Homo sapiens: one gene and its partner. The protein of the gene in region 1 purifies or fractionates together with the protein of each later gene. This does not show direct contact. Each region holds a gene or a part of one and is shown on either strand. Other genes may lie near its edges.

Region 1 (3,652 bases):
CCTGCCATTGTACCTGGCTAATTTTTGTATTTTTAGTAGAGATGGGGTTTCACCATGTTGGCCAGGCTGGTCTTGAACTCCTGACCTCGTGATCCACCCGCCTCAGCCTCCCAAAGTGCTGGGATTACAGGCATGAGCCACCGCACCTGGCCACGATTTTTTTTTTTTTTTTGAGATGGGGTCTTGCTCTGTTGACTAGGCTGCAGTGCAGTGGCACAATCATAGCTCACTGCAGCCTCCAACTCCTGGGCTCAAGCAATCGTCCCACCTCAGCCTCCCAAGTAGCTGAGATTACAGGCACGCACCACCACAGCCAGCTAATTGTTTTAAATTATTTTTTGTAGAGATGGGGTCTTGCTATATTGCCCAGGTGGGTCTCAAACCCCTGGACTCATGCGATCCTCCTGCCTTGGGCTCCCAAAGCACTTGAGGGACTCACACAAAGAGGTGTGAGCCACTGTGCCCGGCCCCAGACAGTGTGGTTTGTGGCAGCATCCTGAGCAAATGAGTGTACAACCAGATACAGTGCCAGGAGCAAGCGGGAATGGCCCTGCCAGCCTGCAGAGGGGTGAGCAATAAGCCACTGAGCTCTGGGTGGGTGTCTGCTGCGGGGTGAAGGCTGCTGGCTCAGGGCCCCGACCCCCTGGAACCTCACCAGGCTTAGGACCTGCGACAGCTGCAGCAGAGCCTCCTGTGCCCTCTGCTTGGTGGCTCGAAGCTTGCCCAGCGAGTGCTCATAGGCGTGCTGCCGCAGCCTCTCCGACAGGGAGCCCAGACGTACGAAGTAGCTCTGTTCCTGCCGCTGCTGCTGCACGGACGCGACGTCAAAGCCATCCAGGGATGTGGCGATGCGGGCTGCAAGGAAAAGGAGAAGGGTCTCTGTGAAGACCAGAACACACAGCTGGGCTCGTCCCATGCAGACAGTCCCAAGAATCACACTGTCCAGTTTATTTATTTATTTATTTAGAGATGGAGTCTCGCTCTGTCGCCCAGGTTGGAGTGCAGTGGTGTCATCTCGGCTCACTGCAACCTCTGCCTCCCGGGTTCAAGTGATTATCCTGCCTCAGCCTCCCGAGTAACTGAGATTACAGGCGCCCGCCACCATGCCCAGCTAATTTTTGTATTTTTAGTAGAGACGGGGTTTCACCATGTTGGCCAGGCTGGTCTCGAACTCCTGATCTCCAGTGATTCATCCGAACTGGCCTCCAAAAGTGCTGTGATTATAGGCGTGAGCCACCACACCTGGCCATGCTGTCCAGTTTATAACCCAGTTCTACTTCTTATAAACCTCGAAGGCCTGGGAGCAAAGGATTCTGCCTTGGTTTTCCCTATCTGCAAAACGGGGATAAGGAAAATTAAACCTCACAGGAATCAGAGACCTTAGACTAGCAGGAGGGTCTCAAGCTATGGCCTGCAGGCCAGACCTGCCTTGGACAACCTGTGAATATAGGCCTGAATGTTCATTATGCAGTCCTGCAGAGAATAACAGCATTCCAGCCAGCAATACATCACATATACTACAGAGGTCCCATAAGATTATAATACCGTAGGCCGGGTGCAGTGGCTCATGCCAGTAATGCCAGCCCTTTGGGAGGCCAAGGCGGGCAGATCACTTGAGGTCAGGAGTTCAAGACTAGCCTGGCCAACATGGCACTACCCCATCTCTACTAAAAATACAAAAATTAGCCAGGCGTGATGGCACTAGCCTGTAATCTCAGCTACTTAGGAGGCTGAGGCAGGAGAATCGCTTGAACCCGGGAGGTGGAGGCTGCAGTGAGCCAAGATCACACCACTGCACTCCAGCCTGGGTGAGAGTGAGACTCCGTCTCAAAAAAAAAAGAGAATAATGACATTTCAGCCAACAATGGACTGCATATACTACAGTGGTCCCATAAGATTATAATACCATATATACCGTATTTTTCCTGTACTTTTTCTTCTTTTTTTTAGACAGGGTCTCGGTCTGTTGCCCAGGCTGGAGTACAGTGGCACGACCTCAGCTTACTGCAGGCTCAACCTCCCAGCTTCAAGCTATCCTTCAACCTTGGCCTCCCGAGTAGCTGGGACTACATAAAGCTGGGACTACGGCAAGACACCTGGCTAATTTTTGTACTTTTTGTAGGAATGGGGTCTCACTATGTTGCCCAGGCTGGTCTTGAAATCCTGGACTCAAGCAATCTGCTCGCCTCAGACTCCCAAAGTGCTAGGTTTACAGGTGTGAGCCATTGCACCTGGCTTCCTGTACCTTTTCTATGTTTAGATCTGTTTGTTTTGTCGGTTTTTATATTTTGAAGTACAGTCTCGCTCTGTTGCCCAGGCTGGAGTGCAGCGGTGCAATCATAGCTCACTGTAGCCTTGAACTCCCAGGCTCAAGTGATCCTCCTGTCTCAGCTCCCAAATAGCAACTGGGACTACAGGCGTGCACTAGCACACCCAGCTAATTTTTAAATTTTTTGTAGAGATGGGGTCTATGTTGTCCAGGCTGGTCTGGAACTACTGGGCTTAACTAATCCTCCCACCAAAGTGCTGGGATGACAGGTGTGAGCCACCACGCCTGGCCTCATCCCATGTTCGTAGGTTCATATGTGTATATGCATGTATTTATTTACTTATTTATTTATTTATTTATTTTTTTGAGACAGAGTCTCACTCTGTTGCCCAGGCTGGAGTGCAATGGCATGATCTCGGCTCACTGCAACCTCCGCCTCCCGGGTTCAAGTGATTCTCCTGCCTTAGCCTCCTGAGTAGCTGGGATTACAGGAATGTGCCACCATGCTTGGCTAATTTTTGTATTTTTAGTAGAGATGGGGTTTCACCATGTTGGCCAGGCTGGTCTCAAACTCCTGACCATGTGATCCAGCTGCCTCAGCCTCCGAAAGTGCTGGGATTACAGGCATGAGTCACCACACCTGGCCTTTATTTTTTTTGAGATGGAGTTTCACTCTTGTTGCCTGGGCTGGAGTGCAATGGCGCAGTCTTGGCTCACCACAAGCTCTGCCTCCCAGATTCAAGCCATTCTCTTGCCTCAGCCTCCCGAGTTAGCTGGGATTACAGGGATGCGCCACCATGCCTGGCTAATTTTGTATTTTTAGTAGAGATAGGGTTTCTTTATGTTGGTCAGGCTTGTCTCGAACTCCCGACCTCAACCTCCACCCGCCTCAGCCTCCCAAAGTACTGGGATTACAGCCATGAGCCACTGCGCCCAGCTGCATGTATTTATTTAATCCTGCTCCTACTGTACCCATGCTTTTTTTTTTTTGAGATGGAGTCTCACTCTGTCGCCCAGGCTGGAGTGCAGCGGCCCAATCTTGGCTCACTGCAACCTCTGCCTCCCAAGTAGCTGGGATTACAGACGCCTGCCACCGCACCTGGCTAATGTTTATTTTATTATTATTATTTTTTTGAGACGGCGTCTAGCTCTATTGCCCAGGCTGGAGTGGAGTGGCATGATCTCGGCTCACTGCAAGCTCCGCCTCCCAGGTTCATGCCATTCTCCTGCCTCAGTCTCCCGAGTAGCTGGGACTACAGGCACCCGCCACCACGCCCGGCTAATTTTTTTTTTTTTTTTTTTTTTTTTTTTAGTAGAGATGGGGTTTCACTGTGTTAGCCAGGATGGTCTCGATCTCCTGAACCTGTGATCCGCCCGGCCTTG
Region 2 (3,652 bases), on another chromosome or scaffold:
TCACCCCCATCTTCCCTAGCTCTGAGGGTGAATGTGTGGACACGGTGAAAGCAGCTGTTCTCTTCTCTGCTCAGTGTGCCTCAAAAATTGACATCAAATGCAGTTGTTTTTCAACATATTTATGTGAAGTGAGTTTTTTTTGCCAATGACTAAGATTAAAAAGAAAGTAAATTTTGGGGATTTAATTGTATTTTAGATCATAGAAAAGTTGATAAATTTGTGATGAGAGAAAATTGTATACATATTGTAAAATAGGACATTGTGATTTTTTTCTGCTTTCTAAGTATTTAAATATATCCCTTAAACAATATATTTAATTTGAAGTTGCCTCTCATCCTCCTTTAGGAAAGACTTTTATTCTGAGCTTTTCTCTTTCCTTGATTTTAGTCTTTCATGAAATGATATTAAAAATAGACTTAATAACATTTTTTTAAAAACCTGATACAGGCTCCCCAGTTTTATTATTTTATTTCACTCATCCATGAAATCCAAAGGTTTGCTCCTTGACCTGGAAGACAGGTGTAGACTGAATCAAAGAATGATAAGGTTTAAACTTCCTTCTGGTGGGGTGCAGTGGCTCATGTCTGTAATACTAGCACTTCAGGAGCCCAAGGTCAGAGGATTGCTTGAGCCCAGGAGTTTGAGACCAGCCTGGGCAACATGGTGAATCCCCATCTCTACAAAAAAATTAAAAAATCAGCTGGGCATGCTGGTGCACGCTTATGCTCCCAGCTACTTGGAAGGCTGAGGTGAGAGGCTCGCTTGAGTCCTGGAGGTCGAGTTGTGATGCTGCCACTGCAGTCTAGCCTGGGTGACAGAGCAAGACCTTGTCTCAAAAAAAAAAAAAAAAAATGTAGATTAAAAGGAACCCTTGCAGACTGTTGGTGAGAATGTAAATTGATGCAGCCGCTATGAAAAACCCCACTGCACTGCAGCCTGGGCAACAGAGTGAGACCCTGCCTCAAAACAAAAAAATAAATAGGCTGGGCGCGGTGGTTTACACCTGTAATCCCTGCACTTTGGGAGGCCGAGGCGGGTGGATCACCTGAGGTCAGGAGTTCGAGACCAGCCTGGCCAACATGGTGAAACCCCCATCTCTACTAAAAATACAAAAAATTAGCTGGGCATGGTAGTGCGTGCCTGTAATCCCAGCTACTCAGGAGGCTGAGGCAGGAGAATCGCTTGAACCTGGGAGGTGGAGGTTACAGTGAGCTGAGATCACGCCACTGCACTCCAGCCTGGGGAACAAGAGCAAAACTCTGTCTCAAAAAATAAAAAATAAATAAATAAAATTGCTTCTGTCACTGGCCCTAGCAGCTTTGGCAAATCTCACCACTTAGGGCCTCGAACTCCTCACCTGTGAATGAGGGACCTGACCATGGTCATCCCTGAAGTCCCAGCATTTAACTCGTAACATGACAAAAAGCAAACCAGGGCTGGGCACAGAGGCTCACACCTGTAATCCCAGCACTTTCAGAGGCCGAGGTGGGTGGATAGCTTGAGATCAGGAGTTCGAGACCAGCTTGGCCAATATGATGAAACCCCGTCTCTACTAAAAATAGGAAAACAAATTAGCTGGGCCATGGTGGCGCATGCCTGTAGTCCCAGCTACTTGGAAGGTTGAGACAGGAGAATCGCTTGAACCTGGGAAGTGGAGGTTGCAGTGAGCTGAGATTGCACCATTGCACTCCAGCCTGGGCATCTCAGTGAGACTCCATCTTAAAAAAAAAAAAAAGAAAAGGAAAAAAAAAAAAAAAGGCAGCATGGTAAGGCCGGGTTTTTATAGATTGGGTCTTTGGAGTGTGCTGTTGGCCTTGGCCACATAGCTGTCTCCTGCCATGCCCTGGCTTTGTGGGGCGCCTAAACCTGTTTTCAGATGATGATTTTGAGTGAGATACAAGTGTAGCTACTTGGAAAAGATTCAGTAGCATCCCTGAGCTATAGTGATAGAAACCCCGTCCTTGTCCCTTCTGTGGAGCAGCCTGTTGGAGCTTCTCTGGGTTGGCCTAGGCCCAGAGATGAGGTCAGCAGCTCAAGGGTCTAGTGTTTTTAGCTGTCTTCCCAGCCCTGCTCCAGAGCCCCCATGTAACCTGCTGCCCTGCAGTGCCCAGCACAGAGCAGTGTCTGTTGAATGCGTGAGTCAAGCAAAACATCAAACAGAATCCTTGACATGGGAAAAACATGCTCCCAGCCACCACCAGCTGAACATTGACATCCAGCTGCTTTCCCACTGGGCAGTGGCTTGTGAAGATGGGGACAGAGTATCATAAATCATCTCCTTTGTGGACAGCAGGGATGATCCTGACCTTCTTGTCACAGACTAAACAGACTAAGTAGCCAGAAGAAAAAAAAAGAAAGAAAGAAAAAAGGGGCTTAAAGGCACTCAGCTGTCAAAATTATAAGGAGGGTTTGTTAAAACTATTTTTTAAAAAAGAAAAGTGGTTAAGTTATGCAGTAGGATATAATATTCTATAATAACTTATTACCAAACTTTTAGCCTTAATCCAGTTGCTATTTTCCTCTTGTCTATTGGATAGACGTATGGAATGTTCTTTTTTTCCCTAAATTTAGTCATGTGCATTTTTTTTCCTATTTATATTGTGGGTTTTTTTTTTTTTTGAGATGGAGTCTTGCTCTGTAGCCCAGACTGGAGTGCAGTGGTGCAATCTCTGCTCACTGCAACCTCCGCCTCCCGGGTTCAAGCGATTCTCCTGCCTTCCAAGTATCTGGGATTACAGGCATGCACCACTATGTCTGGGTAATTTTCATATTTTTAGTAGAGACGGGGTTTCACCATGTTGGCCAGTCTGGTCTTGAACTCCTGACCTCAAGTGATCCACCCACCTCAGCCTCCCAAAGTGCTGGGATTACAGGCGTGAGCCACCGTGCCCTGCCTATATTGTGGATTCTATGTAGATGTTCCAGTGGCTTTTAGGAAGGTCTTTATGATTTCACACATCTGTCTACAGTCATGTCTGCAGAGCAGACTCTCCCCACTCCCTCTGCAGACAGCTGTAAAACATTGTCTTTCATCTCACAGGTATTAGCTTCCTACATGAGTAAAATCAGGTTTAAGTGAATAAAAATTGTGCATCTCTTCCCATGTACCAGGGAAGTATTTTTGGTGCCTCCAAAGACCGAGCACGGTTCACGCCTCTGCTGGCCTTCACACCGCTGCAGCCACACAGTGCAGAAGCCTGCTCCCTGCTGCCCACAAGCATGAGGCAGGTGGGAAGGGGGATGCTCGTGCCACCTTGTAGGCGGGCAGGCAGTCTCATGGGCAGAGGTGTACACAAGGTGGGTGATGAGGAAGACAGCTCTAGGGTATGAATGATCAGCTGCTGAAAAACATCCAGTGCTCAGTGTGGGTACTTAGAGTTATTCTCATAAAAAATGTGAGGCAGAGTTAGTCAGGTGTGGTGATGCATGCCTGTGGTCCCAGCTACTCAGGAGGCTGAGGCAGGAGGATTGCTTGAGCCCAGTGGTTTGTGGCTTCAGTGAGCCATGATTGTGCCACTGCACTCCAGCCTGGCTGACAAAGCGAGACCATGTCTCCAAGAAAAAAAAAAAAAATTTCTAAAAGTACTTGCTGGGTTACACTAAATGAAACCTAAAAAACAAATAGATAAATAATAAAGGTTACACACAGCAG

The links. Proteins that work in one complex are often made in the same cells at the same time.
Region 2: the proteins of PLIN3 (region 1) and IMPA2 fractionate together in Homo sapiens (co-fractionation; one large-scale study listed by BioGRID). This does not show direct contact.

The regions. Positions count from the first base shown.
Region 1 is NC_000019.10:4,847,036-4,850,687, forward strand, and holds part of PLIN3 (perilipin-3), read right to left. Parts: intron 856-3,652; coding exon 656-855; intron 1-655. UniProt on the Homo sapiens protein: Structural component of lipid droplets, which is required for the formation and maintenance of lipid storage droplets. Required for the transport of mannose 6-phosphate receptors (MPR) from endosomes to the trans-Golgi network.
Region 2 is NC_000018.10:12,001,930-12,005,581, forward strand, and holds part of IMPA2 (inositol monophosphatase 2), read left to right. Parts: intron 1-3,652. UniProt on the Homo sapiens protein: Phosphatase that can use myo-inositol monophosphates, myo-inositol 1,4-diphosphate, scyllo-inositol-1,4-diphosphate, glucose-1-phosphate, beta-glycerophosphate and 2'-AMP as substrates in vitro.